Linked DNA regions of Homo sapiens: all the other regions are linked to region 2. The links come from fine-mapping of genetic effects on gene expression. A gene starts in region 2. Each other region holds a variant in brackets. All regions are shown on one strand. Distances are from middle to middle. Region 1 has its middle 20 kb from the start of GPR68. Region 2 holds the start of GPR68 (G protein-coupled receptor 68). Region 3 overlaps CCDC88C (coiled-coil domain containing 88C).

What was found. PIP is the estimated chance that this variant, and not a neighbour inherited with it, causes the effect. A credible set is the group of variants that fine-mapping cannot tell apart.
Region 1: its variant is the best candidate, but not a certain one, in a credible set for the expression of GPR68 in lung (GTEx, PIP 0.76).
Region 3: its variant is the best candidate, but not a certain one, in a credible set for the expression of GPR68 in regulatory T cells (Schmiedel 2018, PIP 0.70).

What each region holds. Positions count from the first base shown.
Region 1 is chr14:91,260,987-91,267,779 of GRCh38, reverse strand. It overlaps a transcript of GPR68 not described here. Among named protein-coding and RNA genes, the nearest start is that of GPR68, 20 kb to the right of the region's middle. RefSeq lists cis regulatory regions at 1-257, 2,763-3,398 and a silencer at 3,149-3,208. The variant T/GT (reference allele first, on the strand shown) is at 3,065.
Region 2 is chr14:91,240,802-91,247,935 of GRCh38, reverse strand. It overlaps GPR68 (G protein-coupled receptor 68), which reads left to right and starts at 3,232. Exons shown (of 2, transcript NM_001177676.2): 1 at 3,232-3,639. RefSeq lists enhancers at 3,465-3,514, 3,034-3,535, 4,595-4,704.
Region 3 is chr14:91,269,303-91,275,103 of GRCh38, reverse strand. CCDC88C (coiled-coil domain containing 88C) reads left to right here. Exons shown (of 30, transcript NM_001080414.4): 30 at 1,451-3,781. The coding sequence ends at 2,479. It also overlaps a transcript of GPR68 not described here. Among named protein-coding and RNA genes, the nearest start is that of GPR68, 27 kb to the right of the region's middle. RefSeq lists a cis regulatory region at 5,396-5,674. The variant A/C (reference allele first, on the strand shown) is at 2,752.

The DNA of each region.
Region 1 (6,793 bases), 20 kb before region 2:
CTCACTCTCCCCCGTGGTCCTGTTACTCCATCAGCTGCTTTCAACGCTAAGACCCTGCTCACCTCCACAGCCAATCCCAAGCCACAGCCCCCTTCAGCAGTACCATGGGATCCTGTGGCTAAGAGAGCACCCTGGATCACGCCCCCTCCTGAGTTCCAGGGCCCCACCCTCTGCGTTGGTGTGGTGTGTGACCTGGTGGCTGGGAAATACCCAAGTTGCAGCTGGATATGCTTTTTTTTCCTTCTGAGACAGGGTCTTACGCTGTCCCTCAGGCTGGAGTACAGTAGTATGACTATGGCTCACTGCAACCTCAAGTGATCCTCCTGCCTCAGCCTCCTGAGTAGCTGGGACTACAGGCACATGCCACCACACCTGGCTAATTTTTTATTTTTTGTAGAGACGGGGTCTTGCTACATTGCCCAGGCTGGTCTCAAACTCCTGACCTCAAGTGATCCCTCGACCTTGGCCTCCCAAAGTGTCAGGATTGCAGGTGTCAGCCACCACACCTGGCCAGAGTTTGACTCTTTATCATCAGTAACAATTTATAAATAATAAAACATACAATAACAATTATTGTAAAATCCATACAACCAATTGATTCTTGCAGAAAGCTCATTGATTTTTTTGCTGGTGTATTTGTAGCCAACCTAGGCTTGCAACTGACAAATGAGCATAGCTTCAACACAAATGTGGTTGATAATTTCTTTCACGTTAACATGTAAGATGAAAGGGAAACAAGTCAAAGATGTATGTCAGAACTTCACTGAAAACATGAGTAACTTTGTTTAATCAAGTGGTAGTTTCTGAATGCTGAACAAATATTTCCTCAATTTTTTGTACTATTCCTATTATAATGGCTACAGATGCAACACACTTTTTTAAAAATTGAGATATAATTTACATACCATAATATTGACCCAAGGCATCTTCTCTATTTTTTTTAAGTCTAGAGACACTAGACAATGAAAAAATATATAAATCAAGCCCAAGTTTATAACATTTACCAATTTCTGTGCTATAAGTACTCTCACCATGGCCAACATCAAGCTGCCAGCACTGAACACATCACTTAACACGGAACTGATCTCAATCTTTGAGATTAAAAAATCTCAGTTTTTATTATTTATTTTTTTGAGATGGAGTCTCACTCGTCGCCCAGGCGGGAGTACAGTGGCACGATCTCGGCTCATTGCAACCTCCGCCTCCTGGGTTCAAGCAATTCTCTGCCTCAGCCTCCTGAATAGCTGGGATTACAGGCGCCCGCCACTACGCCGGGCTAATTTTTCTGTTTTTAGTAGAGACGGGGTTTCACCATCTTGGCCAGGCTGGTCTTGAACTCCTGACCTCATGATCCACCCGCCCCGGCCTCCCAAAGTGCCGAGACTGTACAGTTGTGAGCCACTGTGCCTGGCCTCAATTTTTTAAAAATCGAGATATAATTTATATATCATAATATTCACCCAAGACATCTTCTCTATCATTCTTAACAGGTATACATGACAGCCTTCAGAATAAAGACTAGACCCCCTCCAGTGAAGTCCAGAAACTTATATACTACCTCGAGGTTACAGACAGAATGGGGGCTTATGGGAGAGGGAGAAGAATTCTATTGAGGGATTATAAATGATTACTAGGGAGAACGATTGGATGGGGAACAGAAAGTAACTTGTAAAATTCTTTGGAATTTATATGATCCTTGGCAACAGTCACTGTCTTGAAAGAGTCTGTTCAGATGTGGTTACATTCTGGGTCTTCTTTGCTGTGAAGGGTAATGAGATAACGGGCGAACAAGAACAACTGTTCTCCTTGGTGATTCAGTCCTTTCTTTTTGTAGAAGGGGGAAAGTTTCTTCCAGTTTATTGATCTCTAAGGGTGTTGAATTCAAAATACTCACTATACCAGGGAGCCATATTTTGGGGTGAAATATTTTGGGATTTCCTTCACCAGAAAGAGATGCACCTCATGGTATAATATCACCACCATACAGATACAATAGGTGTAACCTGAAAGCATGGGCAAAAGTAAAATAATTAGGAAGTGGGGAGTCTTGAGTGTTACCTTTGCTTTTCATGTAAGTTACTCGATGGTAGGTTTACATAAGTTAATTGTTAATAATGGCTGTGCTGAACAACTGGCTTGCAAAATTCCTGGAAATTCACAGATGTGCTTTCACAAGCCAGCACAGGTCGGCTTGGCACAGGGAGCACCACCTCTTAGGGATGGGCTGCAGGGGAAGAGTCTGAATGATTGAGCAGAAATAACCAAAGGTGAAGAAGGAACGAGAAGAGAAGAGAAGCTAGGGGCTTTGCGGAGCTGACCGTCCTAAGGTGTACGCAGCTATGCCAGCCGCTGGCTGTCTCCTAGGCCATTTCCCTCTCATTTCTGCCCTCCCAGCCCCATGAAAGGCCTCAGGGAGAGGGGTACCAGGTGTGCAGGATGGCCACAGGGATCCGATTCCAAAGGTCTGCTGAGGCAGGCCCAGTAGCAGGCTCAGAGCAGAACAACCCAGCCGCCTCAGACTCAGCTGGCCCCAAACTCAGCCCTGGAAGAGCCTAGGTTTGAGAGACGTGGTTTTCCCGCACAAGGCACAGAGAATGGCCACTCGGGCTTGTCTGGAGGCTGGGAAACTCTGTCCCGGCTTCTCTCTCACCTTCCACCCTCCCTCCTTGCCCTTCTCCAGAGACAGCAGAAAGAGTCCGCCAGGGGAATGACAGACCCCAGGCCCGGGGGCAAGCCCGTCACCTCTCCATCCGTATGGGGTACAATGGTCTCCACCGGGCAGAGTCCATAGCCCGAAGTCAAGCGCAGAAATGTCCCCTCTCCAAGCTCCGGCCTTTTGGCCCAGCCCCACGAAGTTGGGTTCATCGTGTCACATCTGAGAGCAGAGGCAGAACCAGCTACCTGCTCCCCATCTCCCTTCCCACAAAGAGACCACAAATAGATAGGGGCAGGGATCCAGCCAGCCCGGCCGCAGGGAGGGAAACCTGGGCCCCTCGAGCCCCGGGGGGAGGGAGGTGCCCTAGGAGCTGTCCTGGCAGCCGCACCCTCCCCAGGCCGGTGGGGG[T/GT]GCAGGTGCCCTGGTGTCCGGCGGGGCCTGGACTCTGTCCCCGTGGCGGGGTGGGCGGCGGAGCCTCCGCCTCCCGCCCGAGGACCCCGCACGGCGAGCTCCGCGCCGGTCCCGCCACGCCCCGCAGGCGCCGTCCCCGCGGCCACTCCCTCCCGCGGGCCCAGCCGAACCGCGGCCGCGCTTCCTGCACCCGGGACCCGACAGAGGTGAGTGCGCCGGGCGGCCGGGGCGAGGGTTGACGGCGGCGCCAGCGCGGGGACGCACCCGGGAACGGCTGACCTTCAGCGAGGCCGGCTCCCCGCCAGCTACCGGGGCGGAAAATTCAAATCCAATCTGTGGAATAAAGGCCTTCGGGGGAAGTGGAGCAGGAGAAGGACTGGGGTAGGTCTCTGTGCTAGGATAGGATACAAATGGATGGGGCTCTTGGGGCCCAGGGACTTCCCACCCTGAGGGTGTCATGGAGTGGCGTCTAGGGGGACGGCAGGCCAGAGGGGCTCCCTTGCCCAGGGTTCCTGGAGTGGGGGCAGATCTCAAAAGTCCAGCACTGTCCAGACCCAATGAGGACATGACCTTTCACAGGTCAGCTGCAGCTGAGGCACCGAGAGGAACACTACGGGAGGAGTCCAAGGACCCGGGCCCAGGCGGGAGGTCTGGGCTCCGTGGCAACTCTTAAAGCTGGGGAAATGCTATTCCACCCGGGCCCAGAGAGAGGAGAGAGGCGAAAGGAGGAGGGAGGGGCACACTAATATTTACTGAATGCCCGCCTGGTGCCAGGTACTTCTCACACATTATTTAACTGCCTCGTTTTATCCTTCCATCTTCCCTCATTCATTTATTCAGCAAAACGGGCACTCTGCTGGGCTTTGGCCTGAGCTGGAGGGAGCTGGTCACTGCCCATGTAATTCACACTTTACATGGGAGACAGACTGTAATTCAGAGCGACCGCACGCTACATGGGAGACAGACTATAATTCAGAGTTACCGATGGGAGGTCTGCACTGCTTCTCCTTCTTGCCCAAGATGATCAAAATCAAACTAAGTGGCCCCCAGCAATACACTCCTGGGCCAGTGAGCCCCCACCATCAACATTCAAGGGCCCCTTCTGTATCCACAGCATCACACACACCAGTCACTGAGAGAAGTCCTAGGATACCTCTTAGTCACTTTTGGGTTTCAGTTCAGAATCACCTCTTCCAGGAAGGCTTCCCTGACTTCCCGCCCTCCAGACCAGGTGCTTTTTACTTTGGCTCCTGAGGCGTGGCTCCTCCCTGCCCATTATCCTCCAATCATAGCTGTTATCAGAATGTTGTTCTTGCTGTATTCATCCTGGTTTTCCCTTCTAACCAGTTTCAAAAAATCTCAGCCCCCTCAAGTTCCATGTCTAGTATATACATCATGTTTTTATTTGAATATTTTACCTTGGGAGCTGGATTACCGCAGGACCTCCACTCAAAAAATGGAAACTCGAAACTTATGTCTTACCATCACTATTTTCAGATTCCGTCTGTGCTCCTCAATTTCCTGGGCAGAGTTCATCATTTCCAGGCCCCTGTGGTACAAATTCTGTTACCTCTGATTGACCCCTGGGGCTCCTGACTGAGGAGAGAGAGCAGATAGTAACCCACCTTCTAAAGAAAGTAGCTCCACTTCCAGCTCTCGAAGACTCTCAGCCTCCAAATGCTCTCCCTCTAACCCCAGTTCTACTCCCCGCCCCGCCCCTCCCCGCTGCCCCGTACTGACAGTGTGTGTTGGGGGGTGGAGATTGCAAGGTGGAGGGGGCTGCTGTTGGTGGAAGTCCTGATTAGGGAGTGGAGTCAGGCCCCACCACTAAAGAGGACCTAGACCCAGTGGTCAATTCCAAGGCAAGGGGGAAAATCCCACTCTTGGTTCTATTACACAAATATATTATTTTTTAAAAAGAAATTACAATCTACTTCCAGAAATAGAAAATCAGTACCCCTTGCCACAAAAAGAAGGTAATTAAACAAATAAAAGTGAGGGACTAGGCAGAAGTGTTATTAAACTTTAGCACCTGTGAACATACCTGAGGCCTGCTCTCTAGGCTAAAAAAGGAGATGAGCAAGAATGAGAGTGGTGTTAAAGCACCCATGTGAGGCTTTCTCCTTAGTGTAATAAGACAGATTAAGAAAGGATTGGGACCGGGTGTGGTGGCTCACGCCTGTAATCCCAGCTTTGGGAGTGGATCACTTGAGGTCAGGAGTTCGAGACCAGCCTGGCCAAACACGGTGAAACCCCCGTCTCTACTGAAAATACAAAAGTTAGCCGGGCATGGTGGTGCACGTCTGTAATCCCAGCTACTCTAGAGATGAGGCAGGAGAATTGCTTGAACCCAGGAGGCAGAGGTTGTAGTGAGCAGAGATTGCGTCACTGCACTCCAGCCTGGGTGACAGAGCAAAACTCCATCTCAAAAAAAAAAAAAAAAAACGGCTCTGACGGGAATAACAAAAATAATCACTGACTCCTTCAGTCAGCACCTGCTGAGTGCAGAGAGCCCAGCAGTGCCTGGAGTGATATAAAACAAACCTTCAGTTAATCTTGTTATCAACTAAAGGGCTACTTCTTCCAGGAAGTCCACCCTGATGTGCCCCTTCACAAGCTAAACCTCTCCTGCTGTAACGCTTGCCATGTTTCATTGCAATGGCATATTGTCTTCCACTCCTGAGTATAAATTTCATAAGAACAACCACTAGAGCCAGTTGCGGTGGCTCACGCCTGTAATCCCAGCACTTTGGGAGGCTGAGGCGGGCGGATCACCTGAGGTCAGGAGTTCAAGACCAGCCTGACCAACATGGTGAAACCCCGTCCCTACTAAAAATACAAAATTAGCTGGGCGTGGTGGCACATGCCTGTAATCCAGCTACTTGGGAGGCTGAGGCAGGAGAATTGATTGAACCTGGGAGGCAGAGGTTGCGGTGAGCCAAGATCATGCCATTGCACTCCAGCCTGGGCAACAAGAGCAAAACTCTATCCCCAAAAAAAAAAAAAAAAAAAGAACAACCACTAGGTCTATCTTGTTCACCTCACTGTCCTGGCACCGGCTCCACCCTGGCCCCACAGCCTAGAGCACAGGTGTTAAATGAGCTGATGAACGAATAATGAATGAATAACTGAGTGAGCCTCCCTGACTTCCAATTATGCCTTTCTTTCCTTCTCCCTGCCCTCCTCCCTGTCCTTATCCAAACCCTCCATCCTTCAAGGCCCTGCCAGGGGTCCGGCTTCTCCAGAGGCCTTTTTAAACCAACGGATCCACCCTAAGCCCTCTTGCCCCAGAATATTCCATCGCTGGCAATACGCATACCCAGGGCACATTCAGTTCCATGGTCTGGTGTGTTCCCCACACCTCCAGAGGGCAGGGGCTGTGGGTGACACTTAAACCACAGGTGCTCAGGAAACACTGAGGAGTGACTCCACATGGTCCAGCCTCCAAGTACAGAGCTGTGTTGGGTCTCAACAGCTGTGTTAGTTTCCTGTTGCTATGGAACAAATTACCACCAACTAACTTAGTATCTTAAAACAACACACATTCATTATTTTAGAATTCTAGAGGACAGAATAGAGTCTCACGGGGCTAAAACTAAGGTGTTGGCAGGGCCAGCCAGGTCCTTTGTGGAGGTCCAGGGGAGACTCCATTTCCTTGCCTTTTTCAGCGTCTCAGGCCTGCCTGCATTTCTTGGCTTGCGGCCCCTCCCATCTTTAAAGCTGACAGTG
Region 2 (7,134 bases):
GGTTTCACCATGTTGCCCAGATTGGTCTCAAACCCTGAGTCAAGCAATCCACCCGTCTCAGCCTCCGAAAGTACTGGGATTATAGGCATGAGTCACCTCACCCAGCCAGCACTATACAGGGTTTTAAGTAAGTATCACAAGGTGGGTGTGGGAGGCAGAATAATGCCCTCTCTAAAGAGGCCCAGTTCTTAATCCCCAGAACCTGCCACTGCGTTACCTTACGTGGCAAAGGGAGATTAAGGCAGCAGGTGGAATTAAGACTCCTAATCAGCTGACCTTAAAGTAAGGAGTGATCCAGCATTGTCACAAGCAAGGACCCTTTGAAGTGGAAGAGGGAACATGAGAGTCAGAAGAGGAGATGTGATGTGAGAAGGACTCAGTTGACTGCTGTAGGCTTTGAAGATGGAAGATGCCACAAGCCAAAGTATGCTAGAAGTCTCTAGAAGCTGGAAAGACAAGGAAATGGATTTTAGAGCCTCAAGAAAGAATGCGGCCCTGCAGACTGCAGTTTTGATTTTAGCCAGTAAGATCGATGTCATGCTTTTGACCTCCAAAACTGCAAGATAAGAAATCGATGTTGTTTCAGCCAGCCACGGTGGCTCACGCCTGTAATCTGAGTACTCTGGGAAGCCAAGACAGGTGGATCACTTGAGGCCAGTAGTTTGAGACCAGCCTGGCCAACATGGCAAAACCCCATCGCTACTAAAAATACAAAAATTAGGGCCAGGTGTGGTGGCTCACGCCTGTAATCCCAGCACTTTGGGAAGCCGAGGTGGGCGGATCACCTGAGGTCGAGAGTTCAAGACCAGCCTGACCAACATGGAGAAATCCCATCTCTACTAAAAATACAAAATTAGCCAGGCATAGTGACACATGCCTGTAATCCCAGCTACTCAGGAGGCTGAGGCAGGAGAATAGCTTGAACCTGGCAGGTGGAAGTTGCCGTGAGCCGAGATCACGCCATTGCACTCCAGACTGGGCAACAAGAGCGAATCTCAAAAAAAAAAAAAAAAAAAAAAAGTTAGCCTGGTGTGGTGGCGCATGCCTGTAATCCTAGCTCCTTGGGAGGCTGAGGCAGGAAAATTGCTTGAACCCAGGAGGTGGAGGTTGCAGTGAGTGGAGGTGGTACCACTGCACTCCAGCCTGGGCAACAGGATAATCCCTGCCACACAGAGTTGATATAAGGATTAAACAAAGGATGGGCACAGCACCTGGTGCAAAGCAAATGCTCAGGAAATGGTAAAGGGAGCTCTTGGCACTGAGCCACTCCAGGCTATTTTCTAACTCCTTGAGGGCCAAGCACATGAGAGAGCATGGGCTCTTTTTTCTCTTACTGAGCTAGCATTTCACAAAGACCTGGGCTCAGCCAATTTGAGTAAAACCAAAGAAAGTTTCACCCCTCCTTCATCCCAAAGGCATGGTCCTTACTCCAGGTGCAGTAGGGCACATGCTGCCAGCAGAGGGGCTGGGGCAGCTTGCCAGCCCCTGGCAGGGCTGGAGGCGGGAGGGGACACCATGCCATTAGTGGTTCCTGCAGGTATAGACGATGATGGTGTAGACGGCCGGTGTGTGCACACCCTGTTAGGACAGGCCACCCCGTAGAGGGCCAGAGGTGCTCTCTCTGGCAGGTTGTGTCCTAGGGGTAAGCCAGGCAGTCACTGCTAAGTCAGTTCTGTGCTCCTAACCCCGCGTCCTCCTATATGACATCAGGGAAAGCCAGCCACACTTCCGCAACTCAGAAGTAGCACGTGTGTCTAAATGCACGCTACTGCACCACAACAAGCTGAAGCCTTTGCTCGTAACATAAGGCCTGCAAGAAGCAACTGACGTAGGAAACTTTTTTTTTTTTGAGACGGAGTTTCGCTTTTGTCGCCCAGTCTGGAGTGCAATGGCATGATCTCAGCTCACCGCAACCTCTGCCTCCCAGGTTCAAGTGATTCTCCTGCCTCAGCTTCCCGAGTAGCTAGGATTACAGGCATGCGCCACCACCCCCAGCAAATTTTTGTATTTTTAATAGAGATGGGGTTTCACCATGTTGACCAGGCCGGTCTCCAACTCCTGACCTCAGGTGATCCACCCGCCTCGGCTTCCCAAAGTGCTAGGATTCCAGGCGTGAGCCACCGCACCTGGCCGGAAATAGTTTTTAAAAGGCCTGCTATGTGGTAGCATTTGCTTGGAGGGCCCAGGCCCCACTGAAGGGGATTTCCTTAGACCCCCTACCAACAGAGTGAGGGCAGTGGAGCCAAGGCTCTTGGCATGAATAAGATGGGCATCAGTGTTTTAAACTGTGTTGGTCCCCAGAGCAGGGACCAAGCACAGGGCTCTGGCCACTTCCAGCAGGAAGGACTCGCACCCCCAGTGGCCCCATGCACCGTATCTGTTGGCTTCCTGGCTCTGGCAACGTAGCTTATAATCAGCTTCCAAGGAGTCTGCCTTGGAGGGAGGTGGTTACGCCAAAATGCTGGGCCTTTCCATCCTCCGTGTTATGTGTGTGAGGGAGGGAGTTTAGTAAGTGCTCCTGAGAGCCAGAAGGGCCCCCGGGGCCAGAGCCCTGGGCTTGATTCCTTCTCTGGGGACCGACACAGTTGAAAACATTGATGCCCGCCCTATCCTTACTGATGCCCAGAGCCTTAGCTCCACTGCCTTCGCTCTGCTGCTCTGCCAAACAGGATCCTACCTGCTTCACCACATCCGTGGCTGCCCACCTTCACTGCACTTTAGAACAGTCCAGGGAGCTTTAGAGCCACTGATGCTGGCACGTCACTTCCAGGAAACATGATTTAACCAGCCCCGGGTGGGGCCCGGGCATTGGTATTTTTTTTGTAGGCTCCCAGGTATGTTCTCATGCACATGGCCAGGGTTGAGCCCCAGTGACCCAGATGTTGGCGGCTTCCCCCACCCTTGCCTGGATCCCGGTATCCTGTAGGTGCTGAAAGGTGGCTAGAATTAGCCCACCCCCTCCTCCTGTATCCCCCCACCACAGTCCTGAGGGCACCTGCCCCTAGCTCAGGCTTTCACATTCCCAGCGAGGCTGCTCACTGACTCTGGGTTGCATGGAGAGCAGAGGAAGATGCGTGGAGAGAGCCATTCCGCCGCCCTCAGCCTCTGGCTGGCGAGTGGTTCCTCGGCAACCGCCCAGCCTGACACCAGATTGGAGTTCACATGATTCTGCCTCAGCTCGGGAATGGGCAGCCTCCAGCTGGGGATTTTCTAGCCGGAGCTGGGAGGTTCAGGCTGCGGGAAGTCGCTGGAGGGAGAGCTGGGATCGTGGCTGCAAGGGTGCCCAGGCTCCTGCAGAGCCTCTGCAGGAAGCCCAGCTGTTTGAGGTTTGAAGGCAGAGCCTAGCTGGGGCAGGCAGAGTCAGAGAGGACTCGTTTCAGAGTCCCCCCTCAGAGGACTCCCTCCATCCTGATTTCAGCAGCTGCCTGCTCCTCACCTGGTTGCAGAGACCACACTGCCTTCCTGGGGCCCTGAGGCTCTAGGAGAAGCTGGAAAGCACAGGTGGGGGTCCATCCAGCTGTTTCCAAACTGCGGGTTGTGACCCATTCATGGGTCAGTAAATCAACTTCATAGCTCATGACCTGCATTTAAAAAATTGAAATAGAATAGAAATGATCAGAGTGCGTGGCAAGAAGTAGGGTAAGTATTGCTTTGGGGAAGTTTGTTGCTTTGTACAGATGTGTGTGTGTGTGTGTGTGTGTGTGTGTGTGTGTGTGTCTGTGTTCTGGGTCGCGATGTCAGGTGTATTTCTTGCTATTGCTTGTGATCCAAAAAGCTCAAAGGCAGCAAGTTGGTGCCTAGACACGTGGGTTCTGGATTCAGATCCACCCCAACTGACTGTGTGAGTTTGAGCCTCCCTGCATTAGCCTCTCTGGGCTTCAGGTTCTGAGAAATGGCTTAGCAATGCCAGCCCACCTGACTCACAGGGACTTCGTGGGCCCAGATGGGACTGACCTTTGAAACAGTGACAAGGGTTCTAGAAGTGAGATGCTATGGTCCACGTTGTTGCTGGAGTGAGGCGATCTGGGGGGAAAATGGGGACTAAGGAAAAATGCATCCTGATGTTTCCCCTCTCCTCAGAGGGAAAAATAAAGCACTTTCAGAAAATGAAACAGCCTTGCTTAAAGCATGCAGAGGTTTGGCCAACTGAAGGAAAAGGAAGCTGGGCCCTGGGGAAACTCCCCAGCTCTTGTGGGTTTGGGGTTCCGTGAGCAGCCCTGGCACCATGAGTAACTGTCTGTGTGCGTGCCGGTGTGTGCTGCACGAAAGGGGGGGCGAGTTAGATCACTATTTATGTGCCAGCTGGAATCCAGCATTTAGGCACCTCCGCCTTCTGACTTGGGACATGCAAGAGACTCCTAGCTTAGTCAGAGAGGCCTTTCCTTCCTGTTGGGAGCTTAATTTCTCTTGGTCATTAAAGTCCTCAGAGACCTCTATGCTGATTTGCATTTGCTAAAGATTTGCTTTCAGGCGTTGAGTCACTCTATAGTTTTTCTCAATTTTTTAGCTGGGTAATAAAGTGTTATTTTGATTCTTTTCTCCAATGCCTTCCCAAACTACGGACTGGCCACGTGGCTGGTTTTCCTCAGTGGGCGTTGAAAACATGGTTGACCTGCTAAAGCATAGTCCAGGTGAAGGGGCCAGGCCAGGACCAAGCCTGGTGGCCATTGCTGCAGCATCTGTGAGGACTGGAGCTTGGCTGAGCTGGGGGCTTGAGGGTGGTGGTTCTGGGATGATCATGATAGTCAGCACAGCATGAAGGAAAGTATGGACCAGTCCGAGTTCCAGACCTGGCCTGCCGCATCTCAACTGCAGAGACTTCAGCAGGTTGGTTCATCTCTCTGAGCCTCAGTTTCTTTATCTGTAAAGTGGGAGCTGATGAGAGTGGTGTTGAAAGAGAGAACAGACATTCAGAAACTTGCCTGGCAAGTGCAGGGCCCTCGACAGATGTGGCTTAGTTCTTCTCTACATCTACGTTTTTCCATTTATGGAATATTTTCGCATCCACTGTGTTCTTTGATTTTTGAGGAGGAAGGTTCCTGTGGAGATGAGGTAGAGGGCAAGTCAGAGTTTCCATCTGGGGGTGCCTGTCCTCAGGGAACAGTAGAAGGGAAGGCACTGGTGAAAAATCAGGACCCTCAGACCAGCTCAGGCAGGCTGAGCAGAGAGGGGACCACGGTGATTCCTCCTCCTCACTTTCCTGTTTCTATTAATGATATCCTCACTGTCCCAGCACCCAGCCTCAACCCCCCACCACTTACCTATCCACTCACTCACCTACTCACCTACTCACCTATCCACCCACCCATAATCCATCTGCCACCCATTCCCTCATCCATCTATCCATCTTCCCCTCACCTGTGCATCCATTTACACATTCACCCATCCACTTAGCCACCCACCCACCCACCCACCCACCCTTCCATCAGCTCACCTATCCACCCACCCATACGTCCGTCTGTCCACCCATTCACTCATCCCTCTATCCCTCTACCCCTCACCCATGCATCCATTTACACATTCACCCATCCACTTATCCATCCACCCACCCATCTATCCACTCACCTCTCCAGCTGCCCATATATCCATCTATCCAGCCATCCAGTCATCCATCTATCTGGCTACCCCTATCCCTCCATTTACTCATTCACCCTCCCACCTCTCCACCATCCATCCAACAAATAATTCTGGGGAGGCTATAAGGACCAGGCACCAAGAAAAATCTCCAATTTGCCCCTGGTTGTTCCCCACCTCCCTTGTAATTACTTGCCAGTTCTACAGCTTCACACTGTTTCCTCTCTCGCCCTGCCTACCTCTTATTTAGATCCAGTCACACCAACCTACTTTCAGTTCCGCAGAGCTGCCCCTTCTCTTCCTCTTGCATTTCGTCTGTTTCCACACATTTTCCACAGGTAGAAACTCTCCTCTGCTTCGGCAGCACTTCCTCTTTCTTCTGATCTTACTGTAACTGCCGATGCTCAGGAAGGCCTTTCCTGACAGGGTGAGGCCCCCACCCGTGAATCCTCACAAAACCCTGCGCTCTCTTTGTGAGCTTGTTTCACTTATCTTCTCTCCTCCGCCTTAGGACTAAAAACCACTTGTTACTAGGGGCCAGTGTCTAGTGTTGTGCCTTCCATATAATAGACACTCGGTGAGTATTTGCTGTATGAATGAATACTTGGGTGGACGGATGGATGAATGGATGATGGATGTTTGAATGGATGGATGAACAGATGGATGGATGGGTGGATGATTGGAGAACCATGGAAGCATTTGCAGCAGGGTGTGACTGGGTTAGATTTCTGTTTAGAGGATGGCTTTGAGGATAGTAAGATGGAGACAGGAAGCAGCCCAGGAGGAGGCTGTTGCACTGACTCTGGGAAGGAGCTCTTGACCAAGCCCATCTAGGGTGCTGGCAAGAGAGCTGAAGAGGAGGAGATGGATGTAGGAAATACTTAGAGTTGAAAATGGTAGAACTTGGAAATTAACTGGACGCTGTGGATGAAGATGTGGGTGAAAGCTGAAGGCCAGCCATTGACATGAATGATTGGGCAGGTGAGGAGGCCCCTTCCAAGAACAGGGCAGTGGAGAAAATGATGGACCCAGCGTGGGCCTCACTGAGCGTGTCCTGTGAGTGGCAGGAAGCTGGTTATGCCTTCATCCTGGGAAAGACCTGGGAGTCATCAGAGTGTAGATGGGGTTGAAACCACGGAGAAGCAGCCATCCCACAGGGAGTGCACAGGGAATAAAAAGGGCAAACCAGTGTTTAATGTGTGTGGCAGAGAGGCCCACTGCACCCACCATACACTGCCTTGCATGATAGTGATTTGTGCATGGGACATTCCTGTCTTTCGAGCTTGGAGGTTCCTTGAGACTGGCAGCCATTTCTTGCATTTTGTTTGTTTTGAGATGGGGGGTCTCACTCTGTCACCCAGGCTGGAGTACAGTGGCACGAACATGGCTCACTGCGGCCTTGACCTCCTGGGCTCAAGCGATCCTCCCACTTCAGCCTTCTGATTAGCTGGGACTATAGGTGTGCACCACCATGCTTTGCTAATTTTTAAATTTTATGTAGAGACAGAGTCTTGCTGTGTTGCCCAGGCTGGTCTTGAATGTTGCGGGAAGTCAGGGACC
Region 3 (5,801 bases), 28 kb before region 2:
TGACACACAAGGCCCCTAATGTACACAGGGGCTTCCCATCCCAGGGAAATGACAACCGTATGCCCACCGCGCCCCCACTCTCTGGGCGTCGATGATGCAGGGAGGGCATGTCACAAGATGGGGCTCCCTGCGTGGCCAGGAAGGGTGGGTATCAAAGGCTCTGAGGTGTGCAGGGAGGAGCCTGGTGGAGTGGAAAGCAGCTCTGGAGTCAGGCAGCCATAGGCTTTCATCTGGGTCTGCCTCTCTGGACGCATGGCCTGCCAAACCTCCGTGACCTGTTTCTTTACCTTGATACAGCCTTTCAACAACCTTGCGAGGTCATTTTGAGAATTAAATGAGTTTCTTTGCAATTATACATGTGGTTCCCAGAACAGCACATGGCCCCACAGGTGATGAAAGGTACCTGTGATATCACGGGTCTTACTGGACGCCCACCCAAGATGTGTAGCGTCAAACTAGCATAAAACAGCAGATGTATCTCTGTCCAGTGGCACCATGTCCAGATGTTTGTGTGGGACAGGAGTTGCTGGCAGGTGCAGATGGCTCCTGAGCTACCAACCCGCCTTCAGGCTGACACCTGCCGGCCTCTCATCCCCCATGAACTCACTTCTCTTCCTCTTCATCCATGTCAGCCTCAGGAGAAGCTAGGCTTGCAGAAGGCTGCAGTTCCTGAGTGGGGCCATAGACCCTTGCCTCTGTGGCTCTGCCTATTCCCAAGGTGGTGGCAAATGACACCTGCTCCCTGGGCAGGGGAAGCACAGCCCGGGCGGCAGCTTAGCAGGGACAGTGTGGCGGCTGGGCCTTCCTGGTGTCTTCATTTCCCTGTGCAGCCCCACCATTCCCCCTTCTGGACCCTCGCGGACCCCATTTGTACCTCTCTGTCCCCCACCCCCTCCCATCCCCATTCTGCCTCTCTCTTCTCTTTCTCGGGCCCAGAGAGAGGTCTGAGTGGCAGTGAAGGTTCCGGCGTTTCAAGAGCTGCTCTTGTTCCTCTTGCTCTCGGTGGCGCAAGGTGAAGTCCTTATGATGTCCCGGGGTGACCGGGGAAGGAAGGCCCTGCTCATATCCGCCAGCATTCTAGTTCCTGCTGTGCTTGGTGGAAACCAGACAGACCGAAGCAGTCGGCTATAGTCGAGGTTTCTGGGAAACTTACTCACTTTGTAGGAAGTCATTTCCCTCTCTGGGTCTGTTTCCTTATCTGTAAAGTTAGGGGGTTGCCTGGGGGGAATCTGGGGTTCTTTCCTGGTGGTCCCATGCTGCCTTAGCCACCCTCACCATCCTGCCCAGGGCTGGTGTGTGTGGTGGAGGCGGCACATGTGCCTCGGAGAAGGCAGGCAGGAACTGCGGTCCCAGCCACGTGGGCTGCTCGGGGGCGTCCCGCGCAGGAGGCGGCTCCAAGGACCCACCCAACCCTCATGCCCACCTCCAACCTTCACTCTCTTCTCCGTAGGACACTCCCAGTTGCCGGGATGACCTGCTGAGTGACTACTTCCGAAAGGCCAGCGATCCCCCAGCCATCGGAGGCCAACCAGGACCACCTGCCAAGAAAGAAGGGGCCAAGATGCCCACCAACTTTGTGGCCCCCACCGTCAAAATGGCCGCCCCCACCTCGGAGGGGAGGCCGCTGAAGCCCGGGCAGTACGTAAAGCCAAACTTCAGACTGACTGAGGCCGAGGCCCCACCCAGCGTGGCCCCGAGACAGGCCCAGCCTCCCCAGAGCCTGTCTCTGGGCAGACCCCGGCAGGCTCCGGTGCCCCCAGCTTCCCATGCACCTGCCAGCCGCAGTGCCTCCTTGAGCCGGGCCTTCAGCCTGGCCTCAGCTGACCTTCTCCGGGCCAGCGGGCCAGAGGCCTGCAAACAGGAGTCCCCTCAGAAGCTGGGGGCTCCTGAGGCCTTAGGGGGCAGAGAGACAGGCAGCCACACCCTGCAAAGCCCCGCACCCCCCAGCTCCCATAGCCTGGCCCGGGAGCGGACCCCACTTGTGGGAAAGGCTGGCAGCTCCTGTCAGGGCCCAGGTCCCCGCAGCCGGCCGCTGGACACGAGGCGCTTCTCCCTGGCTCCCCCAAAGGAGGAGAGGCTGGCCCCCCTGCATCAGTCTGCCACAGCCCCCGCCATTGCCACTGCAGGTGCTGGTGCTGCTGCTGCTGGCAGTGGCAGCAACTCCCAGCTCCTGCACTTCTCACCTGCTGCAGCCCCGGCTGCCAGGACCAAGCCCAAGGCGCCCCCACGCTCAGGGGAGGTGGCCACCATCACCCCTGTCCGGGCAGGGCTCAGCCTCTCAGAGGGAGACGGGGTCCCGGGGCAGGGCTGCAGTGAGGGGCTTCCGGCCAAGAGCCCAGGTCGGTCTCCCGATTTGGCTCCCCACCTCGGCCGGGCCCTGGAGGACTGCAGTCGAGGGAGCGTCTCAAAGAGCAGTCCGGCCTCCCCGGAGCCCGGCGGGGATCCGCAGACCGTGTGGTATGAGTACGGCTGTGTGTGACTGTCTCGTGGTTGAGCTCGCAAACCTGAAAACTACTGACGCGCCTTCCGACTCTCACGGCCTTTTCTCTTGCTTGCCTGCGGTGCCAGGAGAGGGTTTGGAATGAGGAAAGGGGTTCCCACGCATTTCTGCTGTTTGTTCTGTGAATGGAAACACTGTGCCAAGCCCCAAGAGGATTACGCTTCCAGGTGTGTAACGTGTTTTCTGTGTCTGCCGCTTCCAGCAGCTGATATCTTTGGAACAAATAATCCACGTCAGCATGGGGACCAATT[A/C]GGATGCAATGACAAACTGACTTCCCCCAAAGCAGACACTACTCCAGTATGTCCCAGTAGAACACTCATTTGCAATGTGTTGAGCTCCGTTAAGCACACACACACTCACACAACAGGCTTACGAGGCTCAGGCCTGGCGGGTCAGAAAGCCCACTCCCTCTCCCAAGGCCACTGGATCCCAGGAGAAGCCCAGACTGGCGATACTACAAAGGTCTCCAGGGCCTGGCAGACCCCAGAGTCAGGCCTGCTGTTAAAAAGTGAGAGTGCTGCTGTTCCATTCCTGGGGTCCCAAGCACTTCCCTTTACCCCAGGACCCAGGGCAGCCTGCAGGGCAGCTGGCGGTGGCCTTGGCCATTTGCCCCCAGCCTCCAGCTGGCTCCTGAGCTCTGCACCAGGGGGTTTGGGGACCACACAGGCACCTGCCTTCCTAGATTTCCCTGGCTCACTTTTCTGCAAACACTGGATCTGCCAGGCCTGGGGATTGGGGGGCAGGAAAGAGGCCCCCATCCAGCCCCCTCCAGGCCAGTGTGCACAGTGCACCGAGGGGTCATCCGCACAGAGCGAGGTGCAAGCTCGATGTGTAACCTGGCTGCGGCACCCGACATCCCCGGTCTCGGGGTGTTGATTTATTTCTGAATAACTTTTTGGGTATAGAAACCAATTTTTTTTAATATATGACATGTATATGTACACACTCATGTGAAATATGTATACTTTGGGGGGATCTATTTATGTTCCAGTGGGAGTCACTCTCTTCTGTCGGGAATCTTATCTGCTGCTTTGTGTCTTTGGTCAGATTCCTGACAATTTAGTTTCCTGTTGTAAAGGTGCTTTTCCTGGGGTGAACTAAACCTATTGATTTTTTTTTTTTAAGATTTTTTTTTCCTTTTGATTTAATATACTGAGAAAGAAATGGGAGACTTTTGAATGTTAACAAGATCCATTTTAGGAGTGTTTGGGGTTGTGTATTAAATAGCCATTCATTCTGGAACTCAAGGACAGGACTGTAATAAAATGGAATGGAACCGAAGTGCGTTCTGGCTTTCCTCACTGCACATTGTTAGCATCGGGTGGGCCCCTGGGGACTTGGGGCTCCCTGCGCCCCTCCTTATGCACCCCTCCCTCTGCTCCCCTTCCTCTGTGCCCCTGCACCCCTCCCTCTGCGCCCCTCCACCCCTCCCTCTGCGCCCCTCCCTGTGCCCCTCCCTCTGCACCCCTACCCCTGCGCCCCTCCACCCCCCTGCGCCCCTCCACCCCCCTGCGCCCCTCCACCCCCCCTCTGCGCCCCTCCCTCTGCACCCCTCCCTCTGCACCGCTCCCTCTGTGCCCCTCCCTCTGCGCCCCTCCACCCCTCCCTCTGCGCCCCTCCCTCTGCGCCCCTCCACCCCTCCCTCTGTGCCCCTCCCTCTGCACCCCTCCCCCTGCACCCCTCCCTCTGCATGCCGGCGACCCTTCCTCCACAGTTGGAATCCACCACTTTCCTTGCCACTAGGTGGGGGAAGCTGTTACACGTGCAACCAGAGACAGATGTGAAGGACAAAGATTTCCTGTACGGTGACAGCTTTCCACCCCTCCTCAGGTGTGTTTAAGTTGGCATCAATTGAATCCTATTTTATTTGTTTTTCTAATGGGTCACCACCACCACAGGGGGCATGCAATGGGCTGGAGACCAGTCTGGGCAACATAGCAAGACATTGTCTACAAAAGATAGAAAAATTAGCCAGGCGTGGTGGTGTATACCTGCAGTCCCAGCTACTCGGGAGGCTGAAGACAGAGGATCCCTTAAGCCCAGGGATGTTGAGGCTGCAGTGAGCAGTGATGGTGCCACTGCACTCTAGCCTGGGAGACAGAGTGAGGCCCTGTCTCAAACAAAAAATAAAATAGCGGGGTATGGTGGTTTGCACCTGTAGTCCCAGCCACTATGGAGGCTGAGGCGGGAGGATCACTTGAGCCCCAGCAGTCGAGGCTTCAGTGAACCAGGACTTGTGCCTCTGCACTCCAGCCTGGGCGACACAGCAAGACCCCATCTCAAAAATAATTGAAGAACCCCATTTTGCTATGGCGTTCATCTCATGTCGTGACAGGAGCTCAGCCTGAAGGGGCTCCTTATGATTTTCCCAAGGCTACTCAACCAGTAAATGCTGGATCTGGAATTTGGACCTTAGGGGCCGAAGATACTGAAATCGGATGCATGGTGGAGAGGAGGAAGAGAGGGAAGGAGGAGGCATGAAAATGGCCATGCCTGACCAAGGTTCTTCTGATGTTTTTCTGTCCAGCTGCTGCCTCAGTGTCTCCTTCCTTCTCACCAAGCCTATTTTTTGGCTCTCTCCTCTCACCTCCTTGCCCGTTCTCCCCGAGGCTCTGCAATCTGTCCTTGTATCTGGCCACTCCACAGAAACTGCCATCCATGCTGTTTTGAGCCAGACTGAGCGGTGGCCACCCGCAGTCTTCATCCTGTGTGGCCTTTGCAATACTTGACAGCTGGCCAGGCACTTCTTGGCACCCTTAGCCTCTGCTGCACGCTTCTTTGTCCCTCTGGGACAGCTCTGTGCTGCCTGCTCCTTCGTCCCTTCATTCATCCCTCCCGGGGACATCAGGGCTGCGGGCAGAGCCCTGGATTCTGCCTCCACCACTCTCCTGTCGTGCATTCCCCCTGCAGGCCTGACCCCACCCTCCCTACAAAGGGAGCGCTTGTGGAGGTGACCTCCAGCCCAGCGTCTCCTGACCTTCAGGCCAGGACTGCTGCCCTCATCAACCCAGCTCCCCTGTTCCCAGGACCATCTCTGCAGCCTCAGGAGCCTGAGATTCGAGCTGGACCCCTCCTTTCCTCACATCCCACATATCACACGTCACATCCTGGACCTGAGGGTGGGGTGGGAATCTGGGCCGCTCCCCTCTGCCAGCTGTCTCTGCCCTAGTTCACACCCTCCCGCCGACTGGTCCCGCTGCCTCAGGCTCTCCCCCTACTCTTCCATCCACTCCAGCCGGCTTTTGGTCCCACTGGTCCTGCGGGAGAGCTCCTGTCAAGGTCGCTAATCCAGAGGCAACTT